Homo sapiens: one gene and its partners. The protein of the gene in region 1 interacts with the protein of each later gene in a pairwise test. Each region holds a gene or a part of one and is shown in the gene's direction. Other genes may lie near its edges. The genes, in order: F2RL1, CNN3, QSER1, ATP2C1, TMEM161A, CRLS1 and OSTC.

The links.
Region 2: the proteins of F2RL1 (region 1) and CNN3 interact in a two-hybrid assay, tested with the Homo sapiens proteins (one large-scale study listed by BioGRID and IntAct).
Region 3: the proteins of F2RL1 (region 1) and QSER1 interact in a two-hybrid assay, tested with the Homo sapiens proteins (one large-scale study listed by BioGRID and IntAct).
Region 4: the proteins of F2RL1 (region 1) and ATP2C1 interact in a two-hybrid assay, tested with the Homo sapiens proteins (one large-scale study listed by BioGRID and IntAct).
Region 5: the proteins of F2RL1 (region 1) and TMEM161A interact in a two-hybrid assay, tested with the Homo sapiens proteins (one large-scale study listed by BioGRID and IntAct).
Region 6: the proteins of F2RL1 (region 1) and CRLS1 interact in a two-hybrid assay, tested with the Homo sapiens proteins (one large-scale study listed by BioGRID and IntAct).
Region 7: the proteins of F2RL1 (region 1) and OSTC interact in a two-hybrid assay, tested with the Homo sapiens proteins (one large-scale study listed by BioGRID and IntAct).

What each region holds. Positions count from the first base shown.
Region 1 is NC_000005.10:76,829,030-76,832,422, forward strand, and holds part of F2RL1 (proteinase-activated receptor 2 preproprotein), read left to right. Parts: intron 1-3,393. UniProt on the Homo sapiens protein: Receptor for trypsin and trypsin-like enzymes coupled to G proteins.
Region 2 is NC_000001.11:94,903,111-94,906,610, reverse strand, and holds part of CNN3 (calponin-3), read left to right. Parts: intron 1-3,086; coding exon 3,087-3,208; intron 3,209-3,422; coding exon 3,423-3,489; intron 3,490-3,500. UniProt on the Homo sapiens protein: Thin filament-associated protein that is implicated in the regulation and modulation of smooth muscle contraction. It is capable of binding to actin, calmodulin and tropomyosin. The interaction of calponin with actin inhibits the actomyosin Mg-ATPase activity.
Region 3 is NC_000011.10:32,891,386-32,895,610, forward strand, and holds the start of QSER1 (glutamine and serine-rich protein 1), read left to right. Parts: upstream 1-1,425; 5' UTR 1,426-1,740; coding exon 1,741-1,949; intron 1,950-4,225. UniProt on the Homo sapiens protein: Plays an essential role in the protection and maintenance of transcriptional and developmental programs.
Region 4 is NC_000003.12:130,956,584-130,960,083, forward strand, and holds part of ATP2C1 (calcium-transporting ATPase type 2C member 1), read left to right. Parts: intron 1-2,691; coding exon 2,692-2,758; intron 2,759-3,500. UniProt on the Homo sapiens protein: ATP-driven pump that supplies the Golgi apparatus with Ca(2+) and Mn(2+) ions, both essential cofactors for processing and trafficking of newly synthesized proteins in the secretory pathway.
Region 5 is NC_000019.10:19,128,479-19,131,978, reverse strand, and holds part of TMEM161A (transmembrane protein 161A isoform 1 precursor), read left to right. Parts: intron 1-1,671; coding exon 1,672-1,823; intron 1,824-3,500. UniProt on the Homo sapiens protein: May play a role in protection against oxidative stress. Overexpression leads to reduced levels of oxidant-induced DNA damage and apoptosis.
Region 6 is NC_000020.11:6,012,623-6,016,122, forward strand, and holds part of CRLS1 (cardiolipin synthase (CMP-forming)), read left to right. Parts: intron 1-2,738; coding exon 2,739-2,868; intron 2,869-3,500. UniProt on the Homo sapiens protein: Catalyzes the synthesis of cardiolipin (CL) (diphosphatidylglycerol) by specifically transferring a phosphatidyl group from CDP-diacylglycerol to phosphatidylglycerol (PG).
Region 7 is NC_000004.12:108,664,099-108,667,598, forward strand, and holds part of OSTC (oligosaccharyltransferase complex subunit OSTC), read left to right. Parts: intron 1-3,148; coding exon 3,149-3,167; 3' UTR 3,168-3,500. UniProt on the Homo sapiens protein: Subunit of STT3A-containing oligosaccharyl transferase (OST-A) complex that catalyzes the initial transfer of a defined glycan (Glc(3)Man(9)GlcNAc(2) in eukaryotes) from the lipid carrier dolichol-pyrophosphate to an asparagine residue within an Asn-X-Ser/Thr consensus motif in nascent polypeptide chains, the first step in protein N-glycosylation.

The sequences.
Region 1 (3,393 bases):
TGCTTGAACCTGGGAGACGGAGGTTGCAGTGAACCAAGATCGCACCACTGCACTCCAGCCTGGGCGACAGAGTAAGACTCCATCTCAAAAAAAAAAACAAGTTATTTTTATGGTTTGTTTGAATCAGGATTGAAACAAGGTACACACATTATATGACTGATATGTCTTTTAAATCTTCTACTCTATAAATTTCACCTCCACACCTTTTTTTTACCTTTGTTCTTCTTCTTCTTCTTTTTTTTTTTTTTGAAGAGATGGCATTGTGCTATGTTGCCCTGGCTGGTCTTGAACTCCTGGTCTCAATCAATCCTCCTGCTTTGGCCTCTCAAAGTGCTGGGTATTGAAGGCATGAGGCACTGTGCCTGGCCCTCTTTCTTATTTTTTGCCTTATAATTTATATTTTGTAAAAAACAGGTCCTTTATCCTGTAGCAGTTCCCAGAGTCTCAATTTTACTGACTACATTTGTGGTGTTGTTTAACACTTTGCCCCCTTCATTTCCATTAATTTGGTGTTGGATAATTTCCACAATAACTGCACCAGTTGCTCAGTCTATAACACTAATCAAGCACTGAATCCAACACCAAATTAATTTCCAGTATGTTACTTTCTAATTGTTACATACATTGTCATTCTAAGTTAAGTGGCCTGTGAAATCAGTGTTAAAGAATAATAACTGGCTTTTTATAATAATGGAATAGAATACAATAGAAAGTATCAGTGCACCCTATGTAATAAGAATAATTATTATTTTGTGAAACGTTTTTCCACCATGGATATGTGTATTGGGAACTGGGTTAGTATGTGGAATATGGTTCTTAGGGGTTATGGTCAAATATTTGAAGAACACTGTAATATGTAGGAATTTTTTTTAAATTTAAAAACAACATATGTTCTTTTTGAAGAATTATATAAAAAAAATAGAACCACTAGAAATAGGACTATCCTAAGCATATTAGTTTCTTGTGGCTACCATAGCAAATTGCCATAAACTGATGATGTAAAACAACACATTTATTCTGTCAGTTCTGGAGACCAGAAGTCTGAAATCAAGGAATTGGGGCCACAAGCCCTCCAAAAGCTCTAAGGGAGAGTCCATTCCTTGCCTTTTCCAGCTTGCAGTGGCTGCTGGCATTTCTTGGCATTCTTGGCCTGTTCCTTGATGTGACTCCAATCTCTGCCTCCATTCTCATGTCACTCACTCCTCTGGCTTCTCCTTTTCTGCGTGTTGCAGATCTCTTTCTGCTTTTCTCTCTGTTTTGTTGTTTGATACAGACTTTAACTCTGTCGCCCAGGCTGGAGTGCAGTGGCGCAATCTTGGCTCACTGCAACCTCCGCCTCCCAGGTTCAAGCAATTCTCCTGCCTCAGCCTCCCAAGTAGCTAGAACTACAGGCGCCTGCCACCACGCCCGGCTAATTTTTGTATTTTTAGTAGAGACAGGGTTTCACTATGTTGGCCAGGCTTGTCTTGAACTTCTGACCTCGTGATCCACCCACCTCAGCCTCCCAAAGTGCTGGGATTACAGGCGTGAGACACCACGCCAGGCCTCTGCCTTTATCTTAGAAACGACACTTGTCATTGGATTTAGGGCCCGCCTAGATAACCCAGGGAGATCTTCTTATCTTAGGATCCTTAATTCTATCTGCAAAGACATTTTTGCTAAATAATGTTCACAGAGTCTGGCGATTAGGACATAGACTTCTCTTTTGGGGGCACCACCTTTCAACCCACTACACTAAGTGAAAAGTGAAATATTGATCTCTACATCCCCCAACACTCCACCCAGGCTAGCATCCCAAATAGGGAAGCATTAAGATGTGAAAAATTCTGCGGAACATTAGTGTAAAGCTTCTAGTGGAAAAATGATGACCAAGCATAACATTATGAGATAAGAGCATGAGTAGGTTTAATATCCCCCTGGTATACGGCAGTGCAAGTATTGCCCTGTCTTCTCTGCTTGGTGAGGCCTACTTTTCCCCAGAATTAGAGTAAAATTATTCAGTATCCTTATATTGTCCTTACTTACTCCTGCAGGTTCATGAATACTTAGGGGCAGAATGTAGGGAGGACATGCCATTCATTTCTTTGTGGTTTTTAGGTCAACTTCATAATATAAGAGAGGGATAATAAGTTAGCTTGTCATGCTACATGCTTGAAAGTCTGTCATCAGTACAGCCACCTATCCAGGCCAGACGGTTTCCCTGCCAGTTGGCCTCCATGGGACATTCTCCAGGAAACCAGCACATGAGCAGGGAAAATCCCTGCCATTGTTGAGGCTATCGTTGTGGGTGAAAAGGGAATGTCCCTTGTGGTCCTGGAATCTCCCTGTGGCAAGCTCTGAATAGGGTATGATGAATTGAATAGGCCAGGAAGGATCCTGGCTCAGGGCTAGAGTGGGATAGAAGGCCATTATGAAGTGAGAAATTAGAAAACTGGTGTCAGGATGGGGATCGCTATTTTACACACTTGAGAATTTAGAAAGGAATTACTGCACATTCCTAAACTGATTTTTTTTTTTTTTTTTTGACTGAGGCTCGCTCTGTCACCCAGGCTGAAGTGCAGTGGCATGATCTTGGATCACTGCAACCTCCACTTCCGGGGTTCAAGCGATTCTTCTGCCTCAGCCTCCCAAGTAGCTGGGATTACAGGCGCCTGCGCCTGGCTAATTTTTGTATTTTTAACAGAGTCAGGGTTTCGCCATGTTAGCCAGGCTGGTCTGAAACTCCTGACCTCAGGTGATCCACCTGCCTTAGCCTCCCAAAGTGCTGAGATTACACGCATGAGCCACCATGCCCAGCCAAACCAAATTTTACTAATTGATAAATCAAAGGACTGTTGTTGGTCATGTGATAAGAATAGCTAGAGCTGGGCGTGATGTCTCACACCTGTAATTCCAGCACTTTGGGAGGCCAAGATGGGAGGATCACTTGAAGCCAGGAGTTCGAGACCAGCTTAGTCAACATAGCAAGACCCCATCTCTAAAAAAAAAAAAAATAATAAGTAAAATAAAAAGAATAGCTGGGGACTAATGAGTGTGGACAGTTTGTAAAAATAAATTGAAATATTGTTAGTCTTCTTTATATTCCTAGAAATCGATGCTCCACATGCATCCCACAACTCCTTACAACTCCCCGATACAAAAATACTCACTGTAAGAAAAAAACCCATAAAACCAAACTAAACCAGACAATAGAAATCCCAATAATCTCATTACACAAAGAAAAGCCCCTATAAGCATTTTGTGTAATCCTCTAATAGTACATTTCTGTTTTCATCTAAAGTACTTTCATTTGAGGCTGGGCTCAGTGGCTCACACTTGTATCTCACCACTTTGGGAGGCTGAGGCAGGAGAATCTTAAGGCCAGGAGTTTGAGAACAGCCTGGGCAACATAGT
Region 2 (3,500 bases), on another chromosome or scaffold:
ACCCAGGCCCATAGCAAAGATAGATGGAGCCAGGCATGGCGCCAAGGCAGAACTCCTCTCACCCTAGCATATTATGTTTTTCTTCAGATTGATCAAAATATATCTCCTAGTTGAGAACGCCCTCACTTTTGGGGAAAAAAAAAATCACCTTACAATTAGTATTTGCTTTCCATAGTTAATGCTTGAGGAGTACTCTTTTCTCCTTTTCTTCTTTGCCTATCCCCTTTCATACCACCACCTCCAGTTTATATAGTGAGAATTTATTTTTCTAGGCACCCAGAACAAGACCCCAGTGTAAAAATATAGTCAAGACTTAAACGTGTCTATCGGCTGGACGCAGTGGCTCACGCCTTTAATCTCAGCACTTTGGGAGGCCGAGGCAGGCGGATCACCTGAGGTCAGGAGTTCGAGACCAGGCTGGCCAACATGGTGAAACCCCGTCTCTGCTAAAAACATGAAAATTAGCGTGGCGTGGTGGTGTGTGACTGTAATCCTAGCTATTCGGGAGGCCGAGGCAGGAGAATTGCTTGAACTCGGGAGGTGGAGGTTGCAGTGAGCTGAGTTCACGCCACTGCACTCCAGCCTGGGTGACAGAGCAAGACTCCATCTCAAAAAAAAATATTTTTAAAAAATGTGTCTGCCAATTTTTGTTTTATTTTCTAAAAGTGCCATAAAAATGGGTTTATTTGATGTGTTGGAGGAGATATATTATCCAAGAATATTTATCTGAGGTATAATAGGAGTAATGGAGGCAGGGGGTGGTGGCTCATGCCTGTAATCTCAGCACTTTGGGAGGCTGATGCGGGAGGATTGCATGAGACCAGGAGTTTGAGACTAGCCTGGAAAACAAATTGTATTTAAGACTGTCTTTTATAAACTAACCTCCAGGCCAGACTTGATCCATGAAACACTGCAAAGTTAGTCGTCTTAATATGAAAATATAAACTTACTGGATTTTCTTTTGTAATTCTGGTTAAGTAAATCTACAGTTCAAATCAATTATCCATTATTCTGTCAAAGCTGTAGAGCCATTTCTCCAACTTGGGTAAAGGGTGCAAAGGATCAAGAACTGCCATCTCCCTAATGCCACAGTAATTTAGTGAAATCATTTGCCCTCTCTCAGTCAAAGCAGAAGCTTCATGCCTTGGCGTGGCGGGGAGGGGAAAAGAGGCCCTGAAAACAGCCCAGGAGTGGTCTGATTATGTGCCAGGGGATCTCTCAGGCTCAGGTGCATGGTGAGCCTTCAAGAGGGGGACCTGGAATGTAGACATTTCCACCTACTTGACCTGGGAAACGGGATGTTTTTCCTACCTTGAGAAGTTAAAAGGCTGTTGTGGCTTTTGATGGACACAAAAAGGAACTGTGATCAAGTGTACGCTTTGAATCTGTTTTTTAAGACTCAGCGTTGGTTTTCACTGTTGGGTGACTTACAGGTAAGCTGGCCAGGTTCGTAAATGTCTGTCCTGATCCTGGTGATCAGGCTCTCTCCCTTGGAAAGGACCTGAATGCAGCCCACAGTCCTATATGCTCTGGCACTATGAACCTAGGGCATTTCCCACAGTTCTGCTTGGTTCCTCCGTGAGTGGTGTAGACTGGAACTTGTGGGACTTCTTTGTGACTAAAATGTCAAGATGCCATTTCATTTCTTCCAATGATTAAACCTCCCTATGTCTTATGGACACAGCAGACATTTCTACCTTCATTCCCATTTCCAATGATGTAATTGATTCCCAAGCTCATGATCTCTATCTCCTGAGCATTTCCTATGTATACTTGGCATTTTCACCAGTGCTGAATGAGAAGACAAATGATACTGGATCTTTCCTTCTTCCCAGCTGTGGGTTTTTTTTTGGCAGTGGGGCGGGAGACAGGGTCTCACTCTGCTGCCCAGGCTGGAGTGCAGTGGTGTGATCATGGCTCACTGTAGCCTCGATCTCGTGGGCTCAAGTGATCTTCCTACCTCAGCCTTCCAAGTCACTGGGATGACAGGCATGCATCGTCAAGCCCAGCTGAATTTTTTATTTTTAGTAGAGACAAGGTCTCTCAATGTTGTGCAGGCTAGTCTCGAACTCCTGACTCAAGAGATCCACCCAGCTCAGTCCCAAAGTGCCGAGATTACAGGTGTGAGCCACTATGCCTGCCTCAGCTGTGTTCTCCATAACCCTGATTGACCAGCCACTTTAAGGGGACTCCAGGACAAGGGATAGCTTAAGAACTTGGGCATGTGATTTTTTTCACAATATTTTGTTTAAATTTTATTTTTTCAATTATTTTAAATTGAGGTCTGGTCTTATTAAAAAGGGATCTTTCAAAACTTATGTTTAATAGTTTTACCATGTATAATAGCATAGCATTTGTGTTGGTAAGTTGGCCTTTATTTTTGAATTCTGCAAGTAAAAAGTTAAACTTTCTTTTAGTTTTATCACATGTTTGGGTGTCAGGTTCAATTCTAGATACTAAGAATCTGAATGAACTAGATGCTTTTCCTGCCTGTAAGAAGTCTAATAGGATAGAGACTACATAAACAGAATTTAAATATTGTACAGTAATTAGTACTGAGGAAAGTGTGTGTGTGTGTGTTTAGTATATAGTGTGTATTTGGCTGAATAGAAGGCAAATACCAGAACTTTCCAGTCAACAAAACTATTGGAATGTTATGTATTGGCCAGGTGAGATACTCTGTAAAATAACTGCATGTGTCAGAATCCTTTCCCCAGCTTTTTTTGGAATAGGGTGATTAATGACTTAAACCTTAAAGTTTGAGTGCCATATTGTAACATACCATTAAATCCTTGTCACTTCCTGTGGATCATGAAATCTGATGTCTCTTGATTGATGTTCTCTCCTTGTCAGTCCCAGCCTCTCCATGGTCTGTTCAAAATTTTGTATGACACGGTCTTCACCAAAAATTTGTTATTAGTTACTGAAGTTGTAACGGTTAAGTTTGCCATTGAGATCTATTGAGTGTCATTTACTACACTTCACAGCTGTGGTCTTAATGGCTAGTGAAAGCAGAGCGCGTTGTGAGTCGGCAGTTTCTGATGCTTTTGTGAAATTCTTCTAAAGTGAGTTAACCTGTATTTCAGATTGCTTCCAAGTATGATCATCAGGCAGAAGAAGATCTTCGCAATTGGATAGAAGAGGTGACAGGCATGAGCATTGGCCCCAACTTCCAGCTGGGCTTAAAGGATGGCATCATCCTCTGCGAGTGAGTTACAGCCCTCCAGAATCTGTTTCTGCTCTTCCAGTTCTTTCCACAGCCTTCTCTCTCACTCTCCTTCTCAGCCCAGGGTGTCAGACCTTGATATTCTACAGATATCTTTAATGCTTTCCCTTACTGATGCTAAAGGGAGCAACTTGATATTTCAATCCTTGTTTTTGTGTGCCAGTAAATAAGATGTCTCTCATATTTTTCTTTTCAGACTTATAAACAAGCTACAGCCAGGCTCAGTGAAGAAGGTCAACGAGTCCTCACTGAACTGGCCTCAGGTAACAGCCAA
Region 3 (4,225 bases), on another chromosome or scaffold:
GGCAAAGTCGCTGTGCCTACACGTTTGAATTCATGTGTAAATAACGACTACTCACTTCCTTGCTTCCCCACCCGGGGACCAGGCTCCAAGCATCACAGGTGCAGAAAGACTTGCAAAAAGGAATGAATAGGAACAAAAGGATGTAGGCGCCAGGAGGAAAACAGGATCTTCCAGAACAAAATTAATCTCGCAAGGCATAGCAGATCCAACACCAGATTATTACCAAAGTTTAAACTTTTTCAATGGTCATCAGAGATAGCGTATCAAGTTTATTAGGTCTTTCACTACGGCTGATTTGCTTAAACCTTTATGTTATGCTTATCTTGAGGGATAGATTTCTGTGCTAAGCACATAATAGGTGTTAAACCAATATTGATTTTTAAAAGGAGGTGGTCATTAAATAGAAATTTTACTGTTATTTTAACCTTTAAATTTATGGCCCAAGGGCCAAACGATGATTTGTACGATTCCCTAGTTTCAATACTTGTGAGTTATTACAAGAAATACAACTCTGCTATGCAACAGAAGAACCGCAAATAGTCATTAAATTACCGCACACCAAGCAGCTTGGAGATCAGATAGGAAATGTTTGGGGAGAGAGTCCTGCTGAAGTTCCAAGTCTCAAACAAAACCCCTCAACATCAGAGTGCATGGTGAGTTTAAATTTATTGTAATTAAAGTCATCCAGATGGTAGTTGGATTAATCAATGAAGAGGTGGTTATCTATCTTGGGATAGAAGATTCTGAAACCCAGAGCGAGAAAAATCCCCAAGGTGGGGGTGGGGACAGTTAATAAGAGCCCTTGGGAAAGGCCCTTTCAGCGAGGATTGGAAAATAATACGTTTGAATTTGAATCTCTTTGAATATAAATCTCCCCTAACAGCAGGAAAAGGGTCCTCTAGCCCAGCAAGCTTTGGGGAGGGAGTAAGCGGAACTGCAAAAGAGCTCGCTCAGCTGTTTCTGGATTGGGGCGCAGAGAAAGAAATCGCGATCAGGGAACTGAGTACTGGAGTCCCTCAAAATAACCCGAAGGGTCAAATAGTGAGCTCCAAGCAAAGCGTTGACCCGGCTACCCCTGAGCAGCGCCCTACGCTGGGTTCCACTCCACTTCCCCTCCCCCGCGCGGGGCGATAGCCAGGCGCGGTCCCTTCCCACGCGGGCCGCGGCGAGTGCGGACAGCTCCCTTCCGGGCTGCGGAAGGCGGGAAGTCTGCGGTTCGCGGGCTCCGGCTGGCGGGCGCCCCTCGGAGTCCCTGAAGTCGGCCGGGCCCCGCAGGACCCGCGCCTTCTCGGCCCCAACTGTCCCTCGCGAAGCGTCCTGCGGTGGCGGAGGCCTCGCGGCCGCCCGCCAGCCCCGCGAGCGGCAAGCGCGGGGCTCAGAGGGGAGGCGGGGCAAGGCCGCGGGGCGGAGGGGGGCGGGAGGTGCATCCTGGGAAATCCACCAACATGGGGCGCAGCGGCCGCCGCCGCCGCCGCCGTCGCCGCGAGTCCCGGCCGCGGGTGCCTCCGCTTCCCTGACGCCCAGCTGGGGCCTCGCCGCCCGCCGCGGCCCGGGTCTTTGCGGCCCAGACTCGCCAGCGCGCCCTTCTCCCGCCTGCTCGCCGGGGCCATGTGAGGGGGCAGCTCCCTCCACCGCCGCCGCCCCCTCTTCCTCCCCCGCCCCCTCTCCCTGCCCGCCCCCGTCACACGGAGCCCTGGAGGATCCCCCGCTGCTGCCCGCCCTCCCTACGCCACCCCCACGATGGACAGGAACTACGCGACCTCGGGCTTCACCGAGCCGCCGCCGCCGCCGCCGCCCGCGCCCCCCGCCGCCCCCGTCCCCGCCAGCGCCGCTGCGCAGCCCCCCGCCCCAGCCTGGGCGTACGAACCCCGAGCCGCCGCCGCCGCCGCCAGCAGCAGCTGCAGCAGTGGCAGCTGCAGTAGCGGCAGCAGCCCCAGCCTCAAGGCCAGGTAGGGAGGGTGGGCGGCGGGGTCGCGGTGGACCAGGAAAGGCCGGGGATGCGTTTGGGGCCTTCGCTCGGTTGCAGCGCCGCCCAGAGGTCTGGGCCGGGCGGGGAGCCCTCCGCTCGCCCTCGGCCAGCTCGGGGGAGGCGGCTGATGACTCCTACGGGGTGGTCGCGGGTAGGTGGGGGCGCCCGGTGCAGGATTCGCGCCTGGGGACGGCGGGTGAAGGAATAGCTGGGCGGGAGTCGTGGGGCTCCGTCACCTCTTGGGTCCTGGGCTCTCACATGGTGAAGTTTGGGCTCGTGGCTGAACTCGGGATCTGTGAGACCCAGGATTGGCGCCGGGGGTCCGAAGGGGGCGCCGGAGAGTTTGGGGCAGTGGCGATCCATTGTATTGGAACCTGGGTGGCCGACAATGCGGTCTTGGGGACTCCGGCGTGTGAGGGTTGCGGAGGCGGGAGAGGAAGAGTCGCGGAACCGCGTCCCGGAGACACTGGGGGGCCCGGGAGGGCTGGGCTACGGGAGAATCCCCGGGGCGCAGGGCAGAAGAGGGGGCCCGGCAGGGCGCGAACGCGGCTCCAGGGCCGGGTGACATATGTTTGCGCTGGTGGCCAAGATTTAGGCGATTTTTCTTCCACGCGTTCAAAGTTGCTCTTAGGTTTCCTCCCCTTTTAACAACAGCAGGAAGTAAGGAATCTTTCTTTGCCTTCTATGCCTCGGGGTGACTGAGAGTTGGGAAGAAATGGGGCGGGGGTTGGGGTGGGGGTAGTGAAGGCCGTAAAGGTTGAAGAACCAAAGCATGCTTCTCCATCTCGGCCTTTAAGGTCCGGGTGCATTATGTAGCGTGGGGTTCAAGAGTTCATCTTGCATGACCAAGGGAATCTAAAATTTTGACTCCTACTTGATATTTAAGCTCGCGGGAAATGTGTAGTAGTGCCACACTGTGAAACGGTCCCATTTGAATGATAACTGGAAGGCGTGGTCTGGTTTGGAGAATTGGTGAGCGGGGTGTTTTAAAGCCACCTCTCCCGAACAATACAGAATCTGGTAGGTGCAGCTTCTGATTACATGGACCAGGGAATCCTGGGTTGCTAATGACTTCATCCTCAGCTACCAACAGGAAGCTTCGTGGCTTTATGATCTCATCAGATTTCTTCATTATTTTTCACGACAGAAGTGAACTTTTGTTTTAAGTTTATACATTACCGTGTTCCAGGTTATCTTCTTTGTTTTTACGAAAGTTCTACGTTCATGATTGAGCAAATAAGTGTGAAGGGTAGCTGGTCTTTGTCTTAGATTGTCCATTGGGACGATTGTGAAAGAATGAGAAAAATTTGCTTCAAGAATAGGAATATAAGCTTTCTCAGAAAATTTTAGGCCCTTTGTTTTCAAGACTTGGGAGTTAACAAAAATAATGTGATGTGCCAATTTGGAGCTAAGTAATTAAATGCTGAAACCTTTCAGAAATAGCCATAATTTTGTATTACATACAAGTAAGCCATTTTAAGGAGTTTCATGAAAGACGTTTGGCACTTCACCCATTATTTCTTGCTGATGGTAATTTGACTATCTTTTTCAAGTAGCTTTTTGCATTGACTAGGATAATTTACAAATGAAAATTACTTTCTCATCATTGAACAGCATGATAGGTATTTGTGCCGCATTTTTTATCTTTTAAATGAAAAATATTTATTAGGTAAATGGAACTGAAATACTACCTAGTTACTTCTTTTAGTAGAATACTTCTGAGGCAAGAAACTAAAATCTACTTGTCATATTTTCCAAATGTTATTTATCAGAGTAACACGAAATGACTTCCCAAACACACTTGAAAACAGTAAGTAGATTCACTTGGCACACATAATCTAAAGGAGATTTATTTTCTGTTTACTAGAAGTTATTGAATCTTAAATATTACCCCTCATGCCCTCTCCCCCTGCTTTTTTAAAAAATAAGCGGTGGGGGGAATCAGCTAAAATACAGCATAGAAAATGCAGGTTTACCCCCCTCCCCCGCCAGCCTGCTTTGTTAACATCTTGTATTGGGATCAGGCCATCTGTACAGAGTTACACTTCTGAATTATACCTCATTTTATTCCTCAAACTGTGCAAATATTCCCTTTGATTTCAGTTATATCAAAAATGGCAAATCTGAAATATGCCTTGTAAGTCTAAATATTCTACACTTCAGAAGCTTATTTATATTTTTATACCATTTTAAAAAGCTTTTTCATAATGCACATATCAGTTGAATGTTTTTGTTCCCCTTTGTGGCAGTTTCTTG
Region 4 (3,500 bases), on another chromosome or scaffold:
TTAGGATTTTTTGAGGGTTTTTTTTTGGTCATATAAATACTTCTTTAGTGTGGTGTCTTCTGGTAAATACCTCTCTTTTTTAAGGAAAAATTCTTAGAAATAAAATTATTTAGTCAAAGGGGATCCATGTAACTTTTAAATTTTTGGCCAGCTTTAAGTATTGTCATTAACTTCAACTGTAAATAAAAGAGTTCTCATTATTTGATTTCACAGTTCATTATTAGGGAAACCGAATGCTTTGTCATGTGTGGGTTGATCATTTTTATTTCATTTTATGACCTGCCAACGATTTCTTTTGTCCCTTTTCTTGTGTCTTGAGTCTTAGATTGATAAAAGCTTTTTATATGACTAGATTATCAATCTTTTTGTTGTATAAGTTTTTTTTTCCCGTTTAAGTTGCCTTTGAGGCATGTGGAATAAACTTGGTAAGAGGACAATATATGTAATTAACCATTTATGCCTAGTGTTCCATTATTGGAATGCTAAGCATGTGGGACTTATTTATATCCTACTGCTCAAGGTCATTGCCAAGGTCTGGTTGCAAAAATTCAAAAAATTGCAACCTCAGACACAAATGGGTTAAAACATCCCCTTTTCCTTGAGATTCTGTTATCACCCTCCTATTGATAATCTCTGCAATTAAGTTGGTTTTGTTCTGTTCCTAAAGATTTTCCCAACCTCATGTTTATAAGAACATTTATTAAAACATTGTTGTATAGTTTTTTATTTTTGACATTTTACTATTTTATTTAAAATTTATTTTAGTACATGGCTTAAGGCAGAGTTTTAACTTTTTTACTCAAGTTAATTATCCCATTAATTCTGTAATCCAGTCTTTATTCATTGGATTGAAGTCACGTTTTTATCACACATTAAGCACTTGCATTAATTTTGGAGTCTTTTCTCCTTTAATTTTCTTACCGTGTTAATTATTCCAGCTAGTTTAGTATTTCAAAGTCAGTAATACAATTTTTTTATTTGAGATGGAGTCTCATTCTTGTTGCTCAGGCTGAAGTGCAATGGCGCAATCCCGGCTGACTGTAACCTCCACCTCCTGGGGTTCAAGTGATTTCCCTGCCTCAGCCTCCCGAGTAGCTGGGATTACAGGTGTGCACCACCACACCTGGCTAATTTTTTTATTGTATTTTTAATAGGGACGGGATTTTACCACATTGGCCAGGCTGGTCTCAAACTCCTGAACTCATGTGATTGCCCACCTCAGCCTCCCAAAGTGCAGGGATTACAGGACTAATGCAATTTTAAAGCAATATTTCTGTTAATACAATATTAGTTGAAATAACTTTGTAAATAGTAATTCTGTTTATCCATCTATCTTCATTGTAAACATAAAGTAGAAGGTAGGAAGTTATCTTAGTTATTTTTGTTTTACTGGTGTGTATGCCCTCATAACTTCTTCCGTTTGATTATTGCTCATTTTCTAGAAATTTTATAGTGAATTTGATAGATCGAATGACATTCTAGCCAATTAAATCTTTGTAGTTTCTATTAGCACTATACCATAAACCATTTCAAATTTAGTAATAAATATGTTTCAACTTTACGATCTCTGGTTATATGTTAGTATATTACATTGGACATAATTTTTCTTGCCAAGGTCAAGAGCTAGATCAGGGGTCAGCAATTGTTTTTTTTTGTTTTTTGTAAAGAACTAGATAGTAAATATTTTAGTCCATATGGTCTCTGTTGGAAATACTTTACTTTGCCATTAGCATGAAAGCAATCATAGAAAATATGTAAATAAATGAGTGTGGCTATGTTCCAACAAATTTCATTTACCTAAGCAGACAGGAGACCCACAGATTATAGTTTGCTGACCCCTGGTATAATCCTTTGGACATAATTTCTTTCATCATGATAGTATTTGGGATAGGATCTTAGAAGGTTGCTATTTGGATAATTATTCTTTAGTTATATAAAGATGAAAAAAAAAACTTGTCTTAAATGTTCATATTGATTTGCAGTCTTGAGATAGCTTATTTTATCAAACCTCTCGTGAATCTGTTTGCTTTTTCCTCACAAACCTGCTTGTGCGCCCCTTTCCCCCTATTCTTTTCAAAGATAAAAGGTTAAAGCAAGGAGTATTGGTTTAATTGATTTTTAAATTTTTGAAATGCCATAAAAGTAGTGATTTTTAGATGTTAATGCAGTTGTAGGTGCTTAACGTAAGGCACATCACTTTTTGAGCCAAGTCGTAAGTGTCCCTTTGTGTGTAGTATGGATTTGCTGAGAAGTGTCTGGATATTGTGTTATGGAAAATAAAGTTTTAGGGTTTAATTTTGCATATTTGATATTAAATAGAAGACCTATATGTTTGCTGCCACCTTCTTTTTTTCATTGTATGAACATACTGGTAATTTTTAAAAAAATAATAAAATATTACTGCTTTAAGGGATGGTAGGAGCAGTGTCAACCAAAAGTAAAACTGTGTGTGTGTGTGCATGTGTGGTGTGTGTGTGCACACATGTACGTATGTGAGTATGCACAGCATTCACATTAAGCAGTGTTAACTTTAACCTCCCCTGTTTAATGGATTTTTATAAAATCTTCTAATTGTGATCTGATATGCTTTCCCTTTTTTGTCAAGGGACGTTTTAGATTCCTTCAGCTTGTTCTGTTCCTTCTAGGTGATTGTATGTAAAAGGGAAAAATAACTATTTAATTATCTTTCAGGAATCATCATGTTGGTTGGCTGGTTACTGGGAAAAGATATCCTGGAAATGTTTACTATTAGTGTAAGGTAAGTCTCAATACTTTATAATTGGAGTCTCTTTTGCCTCTTTTATTTCTCTAATGGACATAGCTTACGTTTTATTATGGAGATCAGTATTACATGGAGCCCATAAGAGTATAACATCGCTACATAAATAGTTCAGAAGTCATATATTAAAATTATCCTTAGAAAAATGAAAATGTATGTATATGGTAATGAAGAAAACCCATACTAGATGTCTGGAATTACTAATGCATTATTGCCTTTTTATATATAAATATACAATTAAGGATTGTCAAATTGAAAACTAGCAACATGAAAGAGAAAGTTCACAATATAGAAATTGAATAATCAATTTCAGAGGAAAACGAAACATTGAAGAAATGATGACAAATTTAAAAACCAAGTGTTTGTATTTTCAGAGACTTGTGAAGAAACTGCATCCATGAGATAAATTGTTGTAGAAAAGGATCAGAGAACAAAAAGAGTTTTTAGAAATTAAGATTATGATTGTTGAAATTAAAAATTCAATTGTAGGGGTGTAATATAAATTCAAAGAGGTCTCCCCCCAAAAAGAGTAAAAAGTCTTAGAATGAGATAAAATGATGAAGAGGAATAATTTCAGGAAATACCACTTGTAACTAATTGGAGTTTCAAAAATTACATAAGATATGACACACAAGTATTTTCTCAAGCTAAGGCAAAAAGTAAGTCTTTATAGATTGAAAGGATTCACTAAATACCAAGCAGAATGGAAAAAACTTCAACC
Region 5 (3,500 bases), on another chromosome or scaffold:
AATTTTAAAAAATATATACTCCAGGCATGGTGGCTCATGCTTGTAATCCCAGCACTTTGGGAAGCTGAGGCAGGCGGATCACCTGAGGTCTGGAGTTCAAGACCAGCCTGGCCAACATGGTGAAACCCCGTCTCTACTAAAAATACAAAAATTAGCCAGGCGCGGTGGCTCATGCCTGTAATCCCAGCACTTTGGGAGGCCGAGGCAGGTGGATCATCTGAGGTCAGGAGTTCAAGACCAGCCTGACCAACATTGAGAAACCCCTTCTCTACTAAAAGTACAAAAATTAGCCGGGGGTGGTGGTGCATACCTGTAATCCCAGCTACTCAGGAGCCTGAGGCAGGAGAATTGCTTGAACCCGGGAGGTGGAGGTTGCAGTGAGCCAAGATCATGCTATTGCACTCCAGCCTGGGTGACAAGAGCGAAACTACATCCCCCCAAAAAATTGTGTGTGTGTGTGTGTGTGTGTGTATATATATATATATGTGTGTGTGTGTATGTATGTACATGTATATATATTTGTTGTTGTTGTTGAGACAGGATCTTGCTTTGTTGCCTAGGCTGGTCCTGATTGGCTTCAAGTGATTCTCCTGCCTTGGCCTCCCAAAGAGAGCAAATACATGACTTTGGGGACCCAAGTCTGAGGAAGCACAGAAAGAATGCTACTCCTGTGACTTTTGGAGTGGGAAACCTGTCTTAAAATCCACTGGTTCCCCAGATTCCCATGCTTTTTTGTTTTTTGTTTTGTTTTGTTTTTTGAGATGGAGTTTTACTCTTGTTGCCCAGGCTGGAGTGCAGTGGCATGATTTAGGCTCACTACAACCTCTGTCTCCCGGGTTCAAGTGATTCTCCTGCCTCAGCCTCCCAAGTAGCTGGGATTACAGGCATGCGCCACCATGCCTGACTAATTTTTGTATTTTTAGTAGAGACTGGGTTTCACCATGTTGGTCAGGGCTGGTCTCAAACTCCTGACCTCAGGTGATCTACCTGTCTCAGCCTCCCAAAGTGCTGGGATTACAGGCATGAGCCACTGCGCCTGGCCTGTTGTTGTTGTTTGAGACAAGATATCCCTCTGTCGTGCAGGCTGGAGTGCAGTGGTGCAATCAGGGCTCACTGCAGCTTCAAACTCCTGGGCTCAAGCGATCCTCCCACCTCAGGCTCCCCAGTAGCTGGGACCACAGGGGCTACCACAAAATTATTTTTTGTAGAGATGGGGGTCTCACTATGTTACCCAGGCTGCTCTTGAACTCCTGGGCTCAAGTGATCCTCCTGCCTTGGCCTCCCAAAGTGCTGGGATTACAGGCATGAGCCACTGTGTCTGGCCCCCATGCTGCATTTTGACAGCAGATTGGAGATGAAGCCCTTCTATATCTGATTGCTTTTCCAAGGGATGTGAAGTAGGTGAGGTGGGTGAAAGAGGCAGGGTCACCCAGGGCGGGAGGCTGTACAGACACGGTGGCCTGATGAGGCCATCTCCCACTCAACGGGAACCCCCAGCCCACATCCTGATCTGAGATCCAGCACCCCAAAACCGAACTCCTCTAGGTCATCCCCAAGGCCTATTTGTGCAGCAGTGCTTGTTCCCTGGAGTTCTGGGGTCCCAGACGGAGTGTGGTGAAATGGGCAGAGTGGGGCAGTGGCACCTGAGGCCTCCTTAGCTCCAGCCTCCAGCAAGATGTTCCTGACAGTGACACGGCTGTACTTCAGCGCCGAGGAGGGGGGTGAGCGCTCTGTCTGCCTCACCTTTGCCTTCCTCTTCCTGCTGCTGGCCATGCTGGTGCAAGTGGTGCGGGAGGAGACCCTCGAGCTGGGCCTGGAGCCTGGTAAGTGCAGCCCCCAACGTGGGGCCACCGCAGCTGTCACTCCCTCATGTAATCTGACCAAGATGGTTTAACTGGCTCCGTGTCCAGCACGAGTAGGCAAAGGAGTGGGCTCCTGGGGTGAAGGCAGTCCCCATTAGTGACCATCTCAGCTCCTGAACCTTGTTGGGCTTTGGGGAAGACAGGACATTGCCTCTCTCACTGTCTCTGATGGACACTCATGGCTATAGCTCTTTTTTTTTCTTTTTTTTTTGAGATGGAGTTTCACTTTTGTCACCCAGGCAGGAGTTCAGTGGCATGATCTTGGCTCACTGCAACCTCTGCCTCCTGCATTCAAGTGATTCTCCTGCCTCAGCCTCCCAAGCTGGGATTATGGGTGTGCACCACCACGCCTGGCTAATTTTTGTATTTTTAGTAAAGATGGGGTTTCACCATGTTGGCCAGGCTGGTCTCAAACTCCTGACCTCAGGTGATCCACCCACCTCAGCCTCCCCAAGTGCTGGGATTACAGGTATGAGCCACTGTGTGTGGCCTCTTTTTTCATTTTTTTAAAAAATTATTTATTTATTTATTTTTATTGAAACAGGGTCTCACTATGTTGCCCAGGCTGGTCTCACACTCCTGAGCTCAAGCAGTCTGCCCGCCTCAGCCTCCCAAATTGTTGTTATTACAGGTGTGAGCCACCGTGCCTGGCCTCTTAAATGATCCTTTTAACATATAATTTGGACCTCATCACTTCTCTGCCCGGCACCACACTCCCCCGGTCTTAGGAGAAAGACCATAGCCCTCACCATGGCCCACATGACCCTGCTGACTGCTTGAGTTTTACCTTCTCCAATTCTCCCTGCCTTTCAGTTTTTAAAATTATATATGTTTGATATATACAAAGAAGATGTGTATGTCAATTATAAAGCAAAATAATCATATGAGTACCTGCAAACCTACCCCTCAAATAATAAGTAGGTGGGGTAGTGACTGCACCAATCTCCCAAGGGGGCGGCAGTAAGGTTTAAATGAATCAAGATCCATGGATAGGGCTTGATTTTTGCCAACCTAGCCCTCGTCACATGGAATGATGCCCTCTGTGGCCTTAACATGCATGTCTCTGATTACCAGGGAAGTTGAGCACCTTTTCCTGTTTATTCATGATTCATGTCTCTTCTGTGAAATTTTTGTGAAATACCTGTTCACATTGTTGCCCATCTTTGAATCTTTTTTCTCTTTGAATTTTTTTTCATTGTGGTAAAATAGACAAAACATAAAATTCACCATCTTAACCATTTTTAAATGTGCAGCTCAGTGGCATTAAGTATATTTAGATGGCCGAGCATGGTGGCTCATGCCTGTAATCCCAGCACTTTGGGAGGCTCAGGCAAGCAGATCACCTGAGGTCGGGAGTTCAAGACCAGCCTGATCAACATGGAGAAACCCTGTCTCTACTAAAAATACAAAATTAGTCGGGCGTGGTGACACATGCCTGTAATCCCAGCTACTTGGATGGCTGAGGCAGGAGAATTGCTTGAACCCAGGAAGCGGAGGTTGTGGTGAGCCAAGATCGAGCCATTGTGCTCCAGCCTGAGCAACAAGAGTGAAACTCCGTCTCAAAAAAAAAAAAAAAAAAAAAATGTAGGCCAGGTGTGGTGGCTCACATGTGTAATCCCAGCACTTTGGGAGGCCAAG
Region 6 (3,500 bases), on another chromosome or scaffold:
AGAATACTAAGAATTCTGTTGCCTATCCACATAGAAGTATCAGTTGGGCAGTTTAGTAGTTTGGAGTTGGAGGAAGTCATCGTTACAGAGAGAGAAATTTGGGAGCTGTCAGATATAGATGGTTGGATCTGGGTAAAATCATCCAGGCTGAGGTAACAGGAATGAAGGGTCAGAGAAATGAGCAACAAGTAAAGCACCAGAAAAGAAGCCAGTCAGGAACCCTGGGAAGGAATAGCTGGCGAGGAAGAAAATTAGGCAGTGAGATTTCCCAGAAAGTGGAGAAAGTGCTTCAGTTGTGTCGAGGTCAGGTACTCTAAAAATGCGGAGTTCCTTGGTGACCTTTATGAGCCTCACCTCTGGAGGGGTGGGGACGATTGGAGTGGGTCGATGAACACATGTGAGATGGTAATGACATTGGACGTTCCTTTGAAGCAGTTTTGCTTTGTAGGGGGATAGAGAAATAGGATCACAGAAGGGTCTTTTAAAAAGATATATACTGGGGAATTATATCTATGTGTATATAGATAGATAGATATAAAATCCTATATATAAAAATATATGCTGGAGTATATGTATATACTGGGGAATTTTTGTTTGGCCTTTTTTTTTTTTTTTTTGAGATAAATCTCGTGTTGCCCAGGTTGGCCTTGAACTCCTGGCTTCAAACGATCCTCCCACCTCAGCCTTCCAAGTAGCTGGGACTATAGGTGTGCCACTGTGCCCAGTGAATTTTTGTTGTTAGTTAACTGATTAATTAAATGATCAGGTAGAAAGATTAAATGAAAGGGAGAGATGGATGATGCAAGGGGAGATGGGGAAGAAGGGAGGCAGGTCACAGAAGGTGAGAGGGCATGGGAACGGATGAAGGAAGGCAGAGAGAATGAATGGATGCAGGTAGGTGGGGGATTTGATGATGGGAATATGAGGATGGGCTGACTACGGTTTTCTTTTTCCTTAAGGAAAATACAGACATGACCATGAGCGAGAGGGATGGAGTTAGGTCTGAGGTGAGAGCAGAGACAGTGTGGAAGAGACAGTGTGAAAAGAGAGGGTAAATATGGTAAACAAGTGTGGGATTGCTAGGCAGTATTGGGTGCCCATGGGAGATTTGTGGTCATCAGTTTGAAGTGAGACCAGTCTTCCCATTTGTGTGTTTTCCTTAAGCACTATTCAGCTCTTAGGTGCAGGCCCAGAGTACATGGAGAGTTGCTTTTAAGCAGTGTTGAAGGAGAGTGGAGTGAAGGGGAGTTACAGATGTTTATAAAGGAATGATGTTGATGACCTTGGAATCTAGTGTGGATTAGAGGAATAGTGAAGATGAGAGGGTGATGATGGCGAAAAAGTGAAAGGTTAAGTTCCCTGAGGTCAGAAACTGAACTAAACCTGATCTTCCAAGGTCCCAGCTCCCCAGGCTAGGTACTTTTCTGTTCGTATGCTTAAGAAGGAAATAGATTTTTTCAGTTGCAATAGCAATAGCTAGTAACTGCTTTTTTTGAGGATTTACTAAGTGCTGAGTGCTGAACAAGTATTAATCACATTGTGTGCTGAAGACAACCACCCCTTTGAGGTAGGTAATTTATCTCTGTTTTACAGATGAGGAAACTAAGGCTTAGTCAGGCCAAATAACTTATCCAAGATCACACAGCTACTAAGTGGCAGAGCCAGGACTTGAACAGCTTCTGTTCTGCTACAAAGACCACATTTTTTTTTACCACGGTCCTGGACTACCGCTGTCTCCTCTAACTCATTGGAATACTTGAGATATGGACAACTTACTTGTTCTTTAAAATGAACCATGATTAATTGCGTCTAAATTAATCTTTTTTCCCCTTAGAAATAGTATTAGAGAACTCAAACATTTGTTGAAACTTGAAGTTAAATGAGTAAAAGCCAGGAAGGGACTTGGATAAACCAGAAAATATCTGCCTTGTTTAATGTGAATAGACAGTACTTGATTTCAGTCCATTTTGTGGCCCCAGAGTGGCCAGACCGCTCCCTTCTCAAGTTAGGATGGAGACCTGGGTTTTTATGGGAAGAATTGAATACTTACATGTTGATAACTAATTACAGTTTTTAAAAGCTCTGATAGGTCAAACAGAACCAGCTTACAGGCTCCATTTGGCCCACTAGCAACTAGATGTGACTTATGCTTTAAATGGTTTATTTTTAATCACAATAATATAAAAATAAATAATTTAAGTATCAGAATTTTAACTAGGCCAGGTAGAGAGGATTGAGTTTTCTATTCAAATGTAGGTAATGCAGATACAGTCAGAGTATGGAATAAACAGTGGTATTGAGCAAAATGAGTTGAAAAACAGAAAAATGGTAAGTTTTAACAGAGTTGGATTATATTATCCTAGTCCAGGCTCTGCCGTTCATGCTTTCTTTGAGTTTTCTTTGGGTTCTTTATAGCTGTAAATACATCACTAACCGTATCTCTAAATGTGTATTTGGGTTCATCCCACAAAGGGGCCTTGTGAAAATACCGAGAAATAACCAGAAGGACTTGAGGGGGAAAGAAAATAAATGTGCATTTATTTTAAGACCAGTTGCTAATTTAAAAGCGAAATGTATACCAGCAAAAGAATGAGAATGTTTGGGGGTAAGAAACAGAAGACATTTTGTTAACATTTTATGAGAGTATAATTGTTATTCTGGTATATCTTAAGCTTCAGAATATCTGCTTTGTTCCTGTTATGACATTTATATATATAAAAAAAAACTTCTATTTTCAGTTGGATGGATTTATTGCTCGAAACTGGGCCAATCAAAGATCAGCTTTGGGAAGTGCTCTTGATCCACTTGCTGATAAAATACTTATCAGTATCTTATATGTTAGCTTGACCTATGCAGATCTTATTCCAGGTAAGAACGCGTCATGCGTACTTTTGAATAGCACAGGGAAGAATGACATTAGTCAGCTTAGGATTTCTCTTGAGAGACAAATAATTTTTGTTCCAAAAATATAGTTTTCAACTTTAAACTGTTTCCCTAATTTTAAACTGTTGAACTGTTTTGTCAAACTACTTGTGGATTTTAGAATTTATGTCCTTGTTTTACTAGTAAAATCAGTTGCTTTCCTAGTAAGATTGTTTAAAATTAAAATTGAATAAATATTTCACAGTGCCAATTCATATTACTCTGAAATTTTTTGGTGATACATTATGTATTTTTAGTGCCTAGCTTTTCAAAAGCAATTTAGTTTTCCTACGTTTATTATCTTTATTAATATCGTTTAATCATAAGTGAGAACTCTGAAATTCTGAAGATGTCTATAAAATTTCACATTATGTAGACCCTATTATGCAATTTTTAAATCATATATATAGTTTGTACATTATATGAATACTTTTTCTGATAAGATTTCATGATTTTTTTGCTTTGTATTTTGCATGTGCTTTTCTGATTGTTCATTTTCTTCTTCAGTCGTATTTCTCAGTTTTTCTCCCTCAGACCAAGTTAAACTGTTTTTTTCCCAAGAGCTAGGAATCATATCT
Region 7 (3,500 bases), on another chromosome or scaffold:
TTTTTCTAACATGGTATCGTTATAACATTATAATATTTCTTAGTATCTCCCAAATTGTCCTTAAGGTAAAACTATTTTAAGTTTGGCAGCTTTGAACAGGACATGTCTATTTAAATATTCTTTTCTATCTAAATATAGGTTGACAAGCATGGGTCACCCACTAGTTACAAGGAAGGATACCATAATATATAGCTATATTAAGAGATAGAGTACAAAGTGTATATTCACATATAGGTATATGCAAATTACAAGAAGTTACTCCTAATGAGTCTTTAGTACTCTTGTTTCATAGTGTAAGCTAGCTGTTGGGTAACTTCTACTACAGAGTGCAGATATTAGTGGATGCTTGCTTAAAATCTTCTTGAACCTTTTTTTTTTTTCTTGTGAAGCTTATGTTTTAAAGTATCCTTTTTGTGACACATCAGGCATTATAGTAGCAAATTTATGTGAGGTCTTTAAATTCAATGTATATATCCAAAGAACCTTTTAATTTTTAATTTTTTTTTTTTTGTGGGGGACGGAGTCTGGCTCTGTTGCCAGGCTGGAGTGCGGTGGCATGATCTCGGTTCACTGCAATCTCCGCCTCCCAGGTTCAAGTGATTCTCCTGCCTCGGCGTCCTGAGTAGCTGGGACTACAGGCATGCACTACCACACCCAGGTAATTTTTGTATTTTTAGTAGAGACGGGGTTTCACTGTGTTGGCCAGGATGGTTTCAATCTCTTGACCTCGTGATCCGCCTGCCTCAGCCTCCCAAAGTGCTGGGATTACAGGCGTGAGCCACTGTGCCCAGCCAAACCTTTTTATTTTTAAATTTTTGTTCAGTTTTGGATTTGGGAGGAGGTGAGAAGTATCTGGTTGTCAAGGTGGTTGTGTTAGATGAAAGTTCTCTTTACTCAGAGTGTGTGGATTGGCCAGGCTGATACAGCAGAAAGAAGAGTGTGTGAGTTCTAGGTTGATTGCATTGGCTGAACATAAGTCTAATCATACAGGGAGTCAAGTGAGTTCAGAAGCTGAAAGGGAGGGAAGTCACATTTTTGAGTGTTTGCTGTGTGCCAAGCACTGGAGGAGACCTCAGTATTGTCAAGTAGTTTTTAAATCTTACGTTACCAGTGAAGAAACTTGGGACTCTAAAAATAGCAGCTAACATTTGTGAAGTGCATGTAACTACGAGTAGCAATTACTATATGAGTAGATTCTCTTATAATCCTTAAAACCCTTTGAGGTAACTCCATTTTACAGATGAGGAAACTGAGTGAGGTTTGCCAGGCTCATGCAGTAAGTGGTAGAAGCAGGGTCAAAAGAAGAGGCGTTCTGAAGCCGTCAGTGAGTATAAGGTGTTGTAAACCTTTTTTTTTTTTTTTTTTTTGAGACGGATTCTTGCACTGTTGCCCAGGCTGGAGCACGGGGTTTCACCATGTTAGCCAGGATGTTTTGTGTTTTGTTTTGTTTTGTTTTGTTTTTTCTTTTTTTTTTTTTTGAGATGGAGTTTCACTCTGTTTGCCCAGGCTGGAGTGCAATGGCACAATCTTGGCTCACTGCAACCTCCACCTCCTGGGTTCAAGCAATTCTCCTGCCTCAGCCTCCTAAGTAGCTGAGATTACAGGCGTCTGTCACCACGCCCAGCTAATTTTTGTAGTTTTAGTAGAGGTGGGTTTTCACCATGTTGGCTAGGCTGGTCTCGAACTCCTGACCTGGTGCTCCACCTACCTCGGCTTCCCAAAGTGCTGGGATTATAGGCATGAGCTACCATGCCCAGCCCAACCCTTTCTTAATGTGGATACTTGTACATAATTTTTCCATTTTTTTTTCCTGATCCTGTAGATTCTTAATTAATAATAGACTTTAAGGGTTTATTGCCAAAGGAAAGGTTTGGAACTTTTATAACACCAGATTTAATGCTTTAATTTAAAGGGGATTTCAGGGCCTAACTTGCACATTTAATAAAAGGATCTCCTGTTTGACCAGCATGAAGTTTGACCTTACCAGCAGGTACAGCTAAAGCTCCTAACTGTTATCCAGACATTTCCTGAAGTATTAGAGGTTCAGGGGCAGATGTTTGTGCACACTTTTTTGAAGTCTCAGAGGCTCACCTCCCAGTCCTGAATAGCTTCTGATTCTCCCACTTCTCTTCTGGTAATATTAGAGTTTTTAGAAATCCAAACCAGTTTCTTTACATAAAAAAAATTTTGATTTTGTTGCACTTCTGAGAGCCTAAAATAGATTGATTCTGACTCTTAACTTTAACTTTTAGATATCATTTTCTTTTCTTTACTTCCTTTTCTTATTCTGTGTTGTTTGGCATACTGCTTTGTAACTTTAAGAGGGAAGGGCCAGGCGCGGTGGCTCACACCTGTAATCCCAGCACTTTGGGAGGCCGAGGTGGATGGATTAACTGAGGTCGGGCATTTGAGACCAGCCTGGCCAAGATGGTGAAACCCCGTCTCTACTAAAAATAGAAAAAGTTAGCTGGGCGTGGTGGCGGTCACCTGTAATCCCAGCTACTTGGGAGGCTGAGGCAGGAGAATCGCTTGAACCCAGGAGGCAGAGGTTGCAGTGAGCCGAGATTGCACCATTGCACTCCAGCCTGGGCAACAAGAGCAAAACTCCATCTCAAAAAAAAAAAAAAAACTTTGCCGGGCTTCACGCGTGTAATCCCAGCACTTTGGAAGGCCAAGGCAGGCGGATCACCTGAAGTCAGGAGTTCCAGACCAACCTGGCCAACATGGTGAAAACCTGTCTCTATAAAAATACAAAAGTTAGCCAGGTGTGGTGGCACGCGCCTGTAATCCCAGCTACTTGGGAGGCTGAGGCAGGAGAACCACTTGAACCCGGGAGGCGGAGGTTGCAGTGAGCTGAGATCACACCATTGCACTCCAGCCTGGGTGACAAGAGCAAAACTCCATCTCAAAAAAAAAAAGGAAAAAGAGGGAAGGATAGTAGAACTGAGGCTCAGTAATTTATTTGTATATTGGGGTGAGGGGGGCAAAATATGAAATAAGGACCATAATAAAGAATCACGCAATTATATTTTTGGATTGTTATTTGATATATCATAAAATTTGTTTTGGCATTTTGAAATACTATGATAATAAGAGAATATAAAAACAATTCTTTTCACTTTTTGTGCTTATAATTATATTTCTGCAGGGGCTATCTGATGGGTTAGAGTGCCTTTGAGAAGAAATCAGTGGATACTGGATTTGCTCCTGTCAATGAAGTTTTAAAGGCTGTACCAATCCTCTAATATGAAATGTGGAAAAGAATGAAGAGCAGCAGTAAAAGAAATATCTAGTGAAAAAACAGGAAGCGTATTGAAGCTTGGACTAGAATTTCTTCTTGGTATTAAAGAGACAAGTTTATCACAGAATTTTTTTTCCTGCTGGCCTATTGCTATACCAATGATGTTGAGTGGCATTTTCTTTTTAGTTTTTCATTAAAATATATTCCATATCTACAACTATAATATCAAATAAAGTGATTATTTTTTACAACCCTCTTA